Homo sapiens: one gene and its partner. The protein of the gene in region 1 interacts with the protein of each later gene in a pairwise test. Each region holds a gene or a part of one and is shown in the gene's direction. Other genes may lie near its edges.

Region 1 (4,263 bases):
GATTGTTTAATACTGGCCCTGTTTTGTCATTTTGTTGTTGTTTTATTTTGCTTTTTTGCATCTTTGTGAGAATTCATTTTCTTTTATACTCTTGGTACTTCTTATCGCTTATTTCTACACTGTTTGAAAGGTTTGTCTTTGTTCTTGTAGCAATAGTTTTGCCGTTGTGTGTCTACTGTACTAAGACTTGGGGCTCAATGAGCTTTTTGGCCCATTTGATTAACTTACATATTTTTCTCCATAGGAAGCAGCCATCAGTTGCTGGGTCCAGTTCAGTGATGGCTCAGTCACGCCCTTGGATATTTACGATGGGAAAGACTTCTCCTTGATGGCCACATCTTTGGATGAGAAGGTAGTCTCCATCCACCAAGACCCCAAATTCAAGTGGCCTATCATTGCTGCGGAAACAGAAGGACAAGGCACCCTGGTCAAGGTGGAAATGGTTATTAGTGAATCCTGCCAGAAATCCAAGCGGAAGAGTGTGTTAGCTGTTGGAACGGCAAACATCAAAGTTAAATTTGGCCAAAACGATGCTAACCCCAACACCAGTGACAGCAGACACACAGGGGCAGGGGTTCACATGGAAAACAATGTCAGTGACAGAAGGCCCAAAAAACCCTCGCAGGAATGGGGGAGTCAGGAAGGACAGTACTATGGCAGTTCTTCTATGGGACTCATGGAGGGACGGGGCACCACGACAGACAGGTCCATCCTGCAGAAGAAGAAAGGCCAGGAAAGCCTTTTAGATGACAACAGCCACTTGCAGACCATCCCCAGCGACCTCACCAGCTTCCCAGCCCAGGTGGACCTCCCCAGAAGCAATGGGGAAATGGATGGGAATGACCTTATGCAGGCATCCAAAGGGCTGAGCGACTTAGAAATTGGGATGTATGCTTTGTTGGGAGTCTTCTGTTTGGCCATTTTGGTCTTCTTGATAAACTGTGTGACCTTTGCATTAAAATACAGACACAAACAGGTTCCCTTCGAGGAGCAGGAAGGGATGAGTCACTCTCATGACTGGGTTGGGTTAAGCAACCGGACAGAGCTGTTGGAGAATCACATCAACTTTGCCTCCTCGCAAGATGAGCAAATCACTGCCATTGACAGGGGCATGGATTTCGAGGAAAGTAAATATCTCCTCAGCACAAACTCCCAAAAAAGCATCAATGGGCAGCTGTTCAAACCTTTGGGACCCATCATCATTGATGGGAAAGATCAGAAAAGTGAGCCCCCAACATCCCCTACCTCAAAAAGGAAAAGGGTAAAATTTACCACCTTCACCGCCGTCTCCTCAGACGACGAGTACCCCACCAGGAACTCCATCGTGATGAGTAGCGAGGATGACATTAAGTGGGTCTGCCAGGATCTGGACCCTGGGGACTGCAAAGAGCTGCACAACTACATGGAGAGGTTACATGAAAATGTGTAAGCCAGACACACACAGACATTGGTTCTCACTCACCTTTCAGCCTTTAATTCCAGGATGTGTAGCAACGGTGCCCCCGGAAGAGAAACAAAGCAGCAGGACAAAATAAGGATGACACTATCCATACAGCCTCAGCCAATGACCCCGGCTCGGCGGCGAGGCCTGGAGTCCGCATCGACGCACACATTCCAGAGTACAGTGTCTTGCTTAAGAGGTTTATCATGCATGGCAAGATTTTTAAGACTTGAAACAAAAACGAGTTCTGAATCACTGAGCGTCTGAGAGCGTCCAGGAAAGAACAGCCTCTCTCTCTCGAATCAAAGCAATTTGGATATTGTAAAATCCACATGGCTCCAATATTCAATATTGCAGACTATGGAAGAAAAGTACAACTCAGGTGGAGCATCCATGGATCGCATCCATGGATCAATGGGAGGAAGCGTGTCATCGAAACTGGAGCAGCACATCTTGCTGTGAGCGCGATCACAGGCAGTCCAGTGCCGCCGTCAGCTGTGGGAGGCATGATTGTGAGTCATTGTCTCTCAAAGGCTGGGCCAGAGCTGTCTCAGATCATGGACAGGCCAAGGAAGTGGCTGACAAGGACTGAAAGGGAACATGTGGGCTAACAGGCCACAAATACCTTTGTAACTACATGCCAAGGACAAACACATGGACGCAAATCCTCTGAGCCCTTCAGGGTACTTCTTTATTTGTAAACTAAGGATACTGGGCATAGAATTTGAATCAGGTTCAAAGAACCACGCTCTTTTGATTCATATCAAGTTCACAATGTATCCATTTCTATTCCTCCACTGCATTGCCATCCTCCCCAAAGCCGTTGGTCACCTGTGGGTGGGGGAGGGAGAGGGCAGTTTGTAGTATTTGCTGGGTCTTTTTTCTCCCCCTGGGTTTTGTGTCAACTCCCAAGTGACATTCTGTAGAGAAGCTCCCCCCGCAACCTGGGCATATGTCCCACGCCGTCCGTCTTTGAAGAGGCTGGTCTCTAGGCATGGGCGGTAGTCACGGTGAATTCCATACCAGGGGATATACATTCCCTTGCTTTACTAGAAAGAAAACAGGGCCACTTGGGATGGGTCTTTCACTGTTCATGGCAGATCTCCTGTCCAAAGATGTGGCCTCGAGGCTGTTGAGACAAATCGGGGTGCCTGTGTGGAACGTGCAGGGCGTGTGGAGTTGGGGGGGTTCTGGGTGTGAAAGTGGTGGATCCAGCAGGAAGCCCAGCCTCACACACACCGGACAGCACAGAAACCTTCTTCATCTTGGAGGTGCGAAGGGATAAGGGGCATCAGTGCATGTGGTGAAGATGCAGGTTTGCAAGCACTTGGTCCTGCAGTCAGCCCCGAAAGGTTCAGCATTGCTTAAGACCAGCCATGACTCTGGATATCCCTGAATCCCTTCACTTATGAAGCCTATGAAGATGGGGGCAAGGATACATCAGAGAATTCCTGCCTCATCTCACGCTCACTCCAAGGTAGAGAATGGTGTGTTGGGTGATTGCCAGCCAGATAGGATCCTGCAAAAGATGGTCGGGGGCAGCGGGTGGTGGGCAGAAGAGGCCGTGCTGTTGAATTGATCTTCTATTTTTCCCTCTGGTCATTTTCTCTCTCTCTCTGCTCTTCAGTTGTCTGTTTTCCAGTCTCTCTGTGTGTCTGTCTCTGTATCTCTCTCCTCCTTTGAACCTATCTTCTCCCTGCTTCCTCTCCATCTCATCTCTGTAATTTTGAGTGTGTGTCTTTACTCCTTCTTCCTCTCCATAGAATTGAATTCTCTTTAGATCATGTGTGTGTAAATTTCACCAGTTTACCCTCCCAACCTTAGCCCTCTCCCCTGCAACTGTGGTGCTCTTGAGACTGAGGTTTCTGCAGCCAGTAAGTCACCTGCTCCTGTCCGCAAGCTTACCTACCTTGTTTGGTTGGGTGATTAAGCTGTCACCCCTTTTCAATGAGAATCCTTTGCTTTCAGTAACGTCCTCATATTTCTTTCCATTCTTACCTGTGTCATGTTCTGTTGAATACTGCAGCCGCTGCCCGCTTCCAAATCCATCTGCGTGTAGAATGTACTGTAGATTGTAAGAATGTAATATATATTTATAAACTTACTGACTGTAAATATAAAGTTTGCATTCAGTGGCTTTATGGCTGTCCTTTGTCTTCTACACGCTGACCCCCTCCAAGGGGCTGGCATCAATTGCAAATGGCTCTGCAAATGCTGCAGCTCTAAATGAAATGCTGATTGAAGGATCCCAGCACAATCCAGTTCCACCTTTACATCGTGTAGTGCTGCTCCCTGCATTGAGGGGATGTTGACACGTGATGACAAAGTGCATTGTGTACCAAGTATCTCTCCTCCAGGACCTGAAAGGATTTGCAAATAAATCACACGTGCAATTCTCTCCTAAAAGCCTGCTGACTGATGGTGGTAAGTAAGTGGAAACTGTGGCAGGCAAGCATGCATTCCAGCCTCCTTTTGGGCTGAGGTGAGGAAAATTCTCTGTCCTTCCTTTGGGTCTCGAGTGTACATACAACAACTCTGGACTGGGTTAAAAAGTTGATTGTAGATTCCTTTATCAACTGCAGCCCCAAGACAATTCTACGAAACAAGAAGATGCATGGAATCCTTATATTCATGCAAACAATAGCAAGTGATTGATAGGTCAATCATTTATTCAGCCAGTATTTACTGAGCAGCTACTCTACTCTGTAGCAGGAATAGCTGTGAGCACTAGAGACAGAGTCACACATACAGCAAATGCACATGCACTCTCCAAAACCTTACTTATATCTATTTGGGTAGGGGGAATAAACAGCAAACAAAAT
Region 2 (3,500 bases), on another chromosome or scaffold:
GATCTGCAGTGGGTCCCCTGGAGTCCTTGGTTGAGTGAAGGTGTTAGAAGAAACTACTTAAGCCAAGAAATGAGTAACTGGAAATTAGTAGAGCAAATAATTTACAGATCATCTATGGGGCTGGGAAAAGTTTGTGTTTCCACTAGCCAGAGTAGAAATAACTCATAATGCATGGGTCATCAGGTGGAGTCCTCCAACAGGTGTTGCCTTAGTACTGAGGTCAAATTGTCCCTAGACCAAAGGCTTCTTTGGACTTCCCCTAACAAAGCTTAAAGACAAGCCTTGGAAGGATCAAACTAATTTCAAGAAACTTAACTGTGAATCAGAATAAAACCCAATACCATTTATAGGAATATAACAAAATCCATCAACAAACAACATAACACTCATAATTACCAACATTCAGTAAAAAATTACTGGAAACAGAGAAATATAAATTATGGCCCATAATTAGGAAAAAAGGGTAATCATTAGAAGTAGAACCAGAAGTGACAGATATGAAGAAATTAGCAGCTTGAATTATGTGATGTGGCAGATCTTATGTATTGGAGGTAGGGGGAAAGAAGATGCAGTGTGGAATAGATGACAAGGCCCAATGAGAGAATCACAGTGCAGGTCCCTGGGGCCCTGAAGGAAGGTGGTTCTAACCACAGGAGAGGATCATATGCTTTTTGAAAAACAGCCTCTGCTGTGCTACTGGGCCCTGGTAGACACGGAACTTTGAGACCCAGTGATGCTGTATCCAGAACTGCTCATCTTAACTAGGTCCTGTGGGAAGCACTAAGTCATAAGCTAGTAGGATCGGCAGCAGCCCATTGGAAGATGGAAATGATATGTACAGGAGCAGTTCCAAGCCAGACCAGAGGACATAAGCAAACTGCAAGAGCAATTACTCCAACCGCCATGTCTGCACAGTGGCACCTACATCCCCCCTCCCTGTGGTTGTTGGAGGACCTGTATGATCCACTGAAGGAAGAGGAATGCTTGGGCTTGGTTTATTGATTAGTTATCTTCTGTAGTTGCAAGCTGAAAATGGACCTTCACTCAAAGGTGACATTGAAAAACGGGAAAAAAATTGCAATCTTCCTGCAAAAACTGGGCAGAATTTTTTGAGGTACACTGGATCATTCACCTTGTGAGGGAGGACAGGTAAAATATTTATGGAAGTGGCAGAAAATGGCCTGCCAGCTGATCAGGAGTTTGGGAGGAAAAAAACATGGATTAGGAGGTCTGGGGTAGAGGCATGTGGATGGGCATATGGAGTGAACACAGAAGTTGAAAAACTGTATCACATGTTAATGCCCACTAGATAGCACCCACCAGAGAAGAGGCACTAAACAACCAAGTAGATGAAATGACTTAGCCTGTTCTATTAGCTTTTGCCAGTGCCCACCTCAGTGCTGGTAAAATGCACACATAAAGTGGCAGTGGTGGCAAAGATGGAGGCTATGGATGGAACCCACCAACATGGGCTCCCACTTACCAAGGCCAACTTAGACACTGCTCACTGTGACTATCCAACCTGCCTGCAACAAATACCAATGCTGAGACCCTGATGAGGCTGTGAAGACCAACTGGTCGCTTGATAGCAAATTCACTATGGTAGGCTCATTCTTTCCTAGAAGCACCAGCAGTTTATTCACACAAGGACAGACTTCCTATTCTAGGTATGTGGTTCCTTTCGGGCCTACAGGGTCCTGAACACAATCTAAGGACTTACAAAACATCTGAACTGTCAGCGTAGATTTGCTGAATACGTGATCTATACATGTTAACACCCAATCAGGGAGAGTTCGCCAGCGGTCATAGGATCCACTGCTCCTATCACATACTGCGCCACCTAGAAGCTGCTAGACTGATGGAATGTTGGCATGGCCTGCTTTAGTGCCAGGTGGGAGACAATACCCTGCCAAGATGTGCCACCGTCTCCTGCACACAGTATACTTATTGAATCAGAAAGCCTGTATGATGCTGTGTCTACAACAGGAATATATAGATTTCAGAACCAAGGAGTGGAGGCAGGAGTGACCCCACTTACCATCGCACCCAACGAACCACTGAGGGACTTAGTACTTCCCATGCCCACAACTCCAGGTTCTACAGCATCAGAAGTCCTAGTTCTCAGAGACTGTATACCTTCTCTAGGCAATATTGCAAGAATCCCATTGAACTACAGTCTGCTGCTACTATGTGGGCACTTTGGACTCTGTGTTCAGGGACCAGTAGGCAAGAAGTCACCATCTAGTCAAGGGTAATTGACCCTGAACTGCAGGAGGAGGCAAGCCTGCTGTCAGAGGATAGTGGCGAGAGCAATGTGTGTGGAACTTAGCGGACCCACTGGAGGCACCCTCTGTACTCCTTGCCCAGTTGTAACTGAATGGACTAGTGCAGCAACCCTGGTCTGAGAAGGGTTTGGCTCCCAGGAGCTCAGGACCCTCAGGAATGAGAGCTTGGTTTATACTATCAAAAAAGCCACCAAGACCAGCAAAGATGACAGTTGTGGGTGAGGGGAATTTAGAATGAAGCAGGGAGTAATGAGGACCAGTTGTGGTTCCAAAACCATTTGCAGGAAGGTGCTATAGTTGGTCCTACCAAACTCCTCTTTCAACATTTATCCTCAGGAAGAGAGGTCCATTGGCGCCCTGAAACAGTCACTCTCTGCGTGTTTTTGGGAAAATGGATCCACATAGGCAAGGGGTGGACCATGGCAGGCATAGAGCGGTGCCACTTAGATCCCCCTTCAAGACAAGATATGCCATCCAGCTGCAAGGAGTGTGGGTAGCTGGCAGCCACCAGCTGCTACTTCACCAGGATCCACCTTAGCTTTCAAGCTGAGGTCACGCTATTCTCAAGACAGGAGGGGTTGGTGGCCAATGATTTCACTAAATTATGGAAATTGAGAGCATGCTTTTCTGAGGGGGCCCTCTTGCCAAAGACCAAGCAAGGCCATGGTACAAGGACCTAACTGTTTCAGTCCAACACAGGACTCCTCCAATGAGTGACCTTTTTCCCAGAGTTCCCCTGGGATGGCAGCTCGCCTGCTCTCCCTGCCTCGTCCTGCTTCCTCTTTTCCTTTCAAAGGTGCTTACTCCAATAATAAATCCTTTGGTATTCTAACTGTCTACTTCTTGAAGAATCTAAACTGGCAGTAGGATCATGCCCCTCACTGATAGCTCAACCACGTTTTCTATCTTTGGGCCTCCTTGTCTTTACCTAGCACATGAGAAGCATTTATTAGGACTTTTTTTCCCCCATTGCTGAACAAATGACTACAGATTGCTCTACCTCTTGTTCTGTGAATAAAGGCTGGCCGCTGTGGAAGGTAGGTCAGAGCAGGCAACTGAGAGAAACTGTATTACAGTTACCGAGTGGCTTATTAAGGAAAGTGGCGCAACAATCAGGTCCATGTTTCATTCAAATGACCCTCCATTCCCCCAACAACATCCTCACATCTGCCAAAGCAAATTATGCTGCTGTGCTCATTTGATGATGGAATCAGC

The links. Proteins that work in one complex are often made in the same cells at the same time.
Region 2: the proteins of TMEM132D (region 1) and HEBP2 interact in a two-hybrid assay, tested with the Homo sapiens proteins (one large-scale study listed by BioGRID).

The regions. Positions count from the first base shown.
Region 1 is NC_000012.12:129,071,041-129,075,303, reverse strand, and holds the end of TMEM132D (transmembrane protein 132D precursor), read left to right. Parts: intron 1-228; exon of another isoform or gene 229-244; coding exon 245-1,429; 3' UTR 1,430-3,578; downstream 3,579-4,263. UniProt on the Homo sapiens protein: Regulate neuronals morphology via inhibition of the WAVE regulatory complex (WCR), a complex that controls F-actin cytoskeletal dynamics.
Region 2 is NC_000006.12:138,417,723-138,421,222, forward strand, and holds part of HEBP2 (heme-binding protein 2), read left to right. Parts: 3' UTR 1-3,500. UniProt on the Homo sapiens protein: Can promote mitochondrial permeability transition and facilitate necrotic cell death under different types of stress conditions.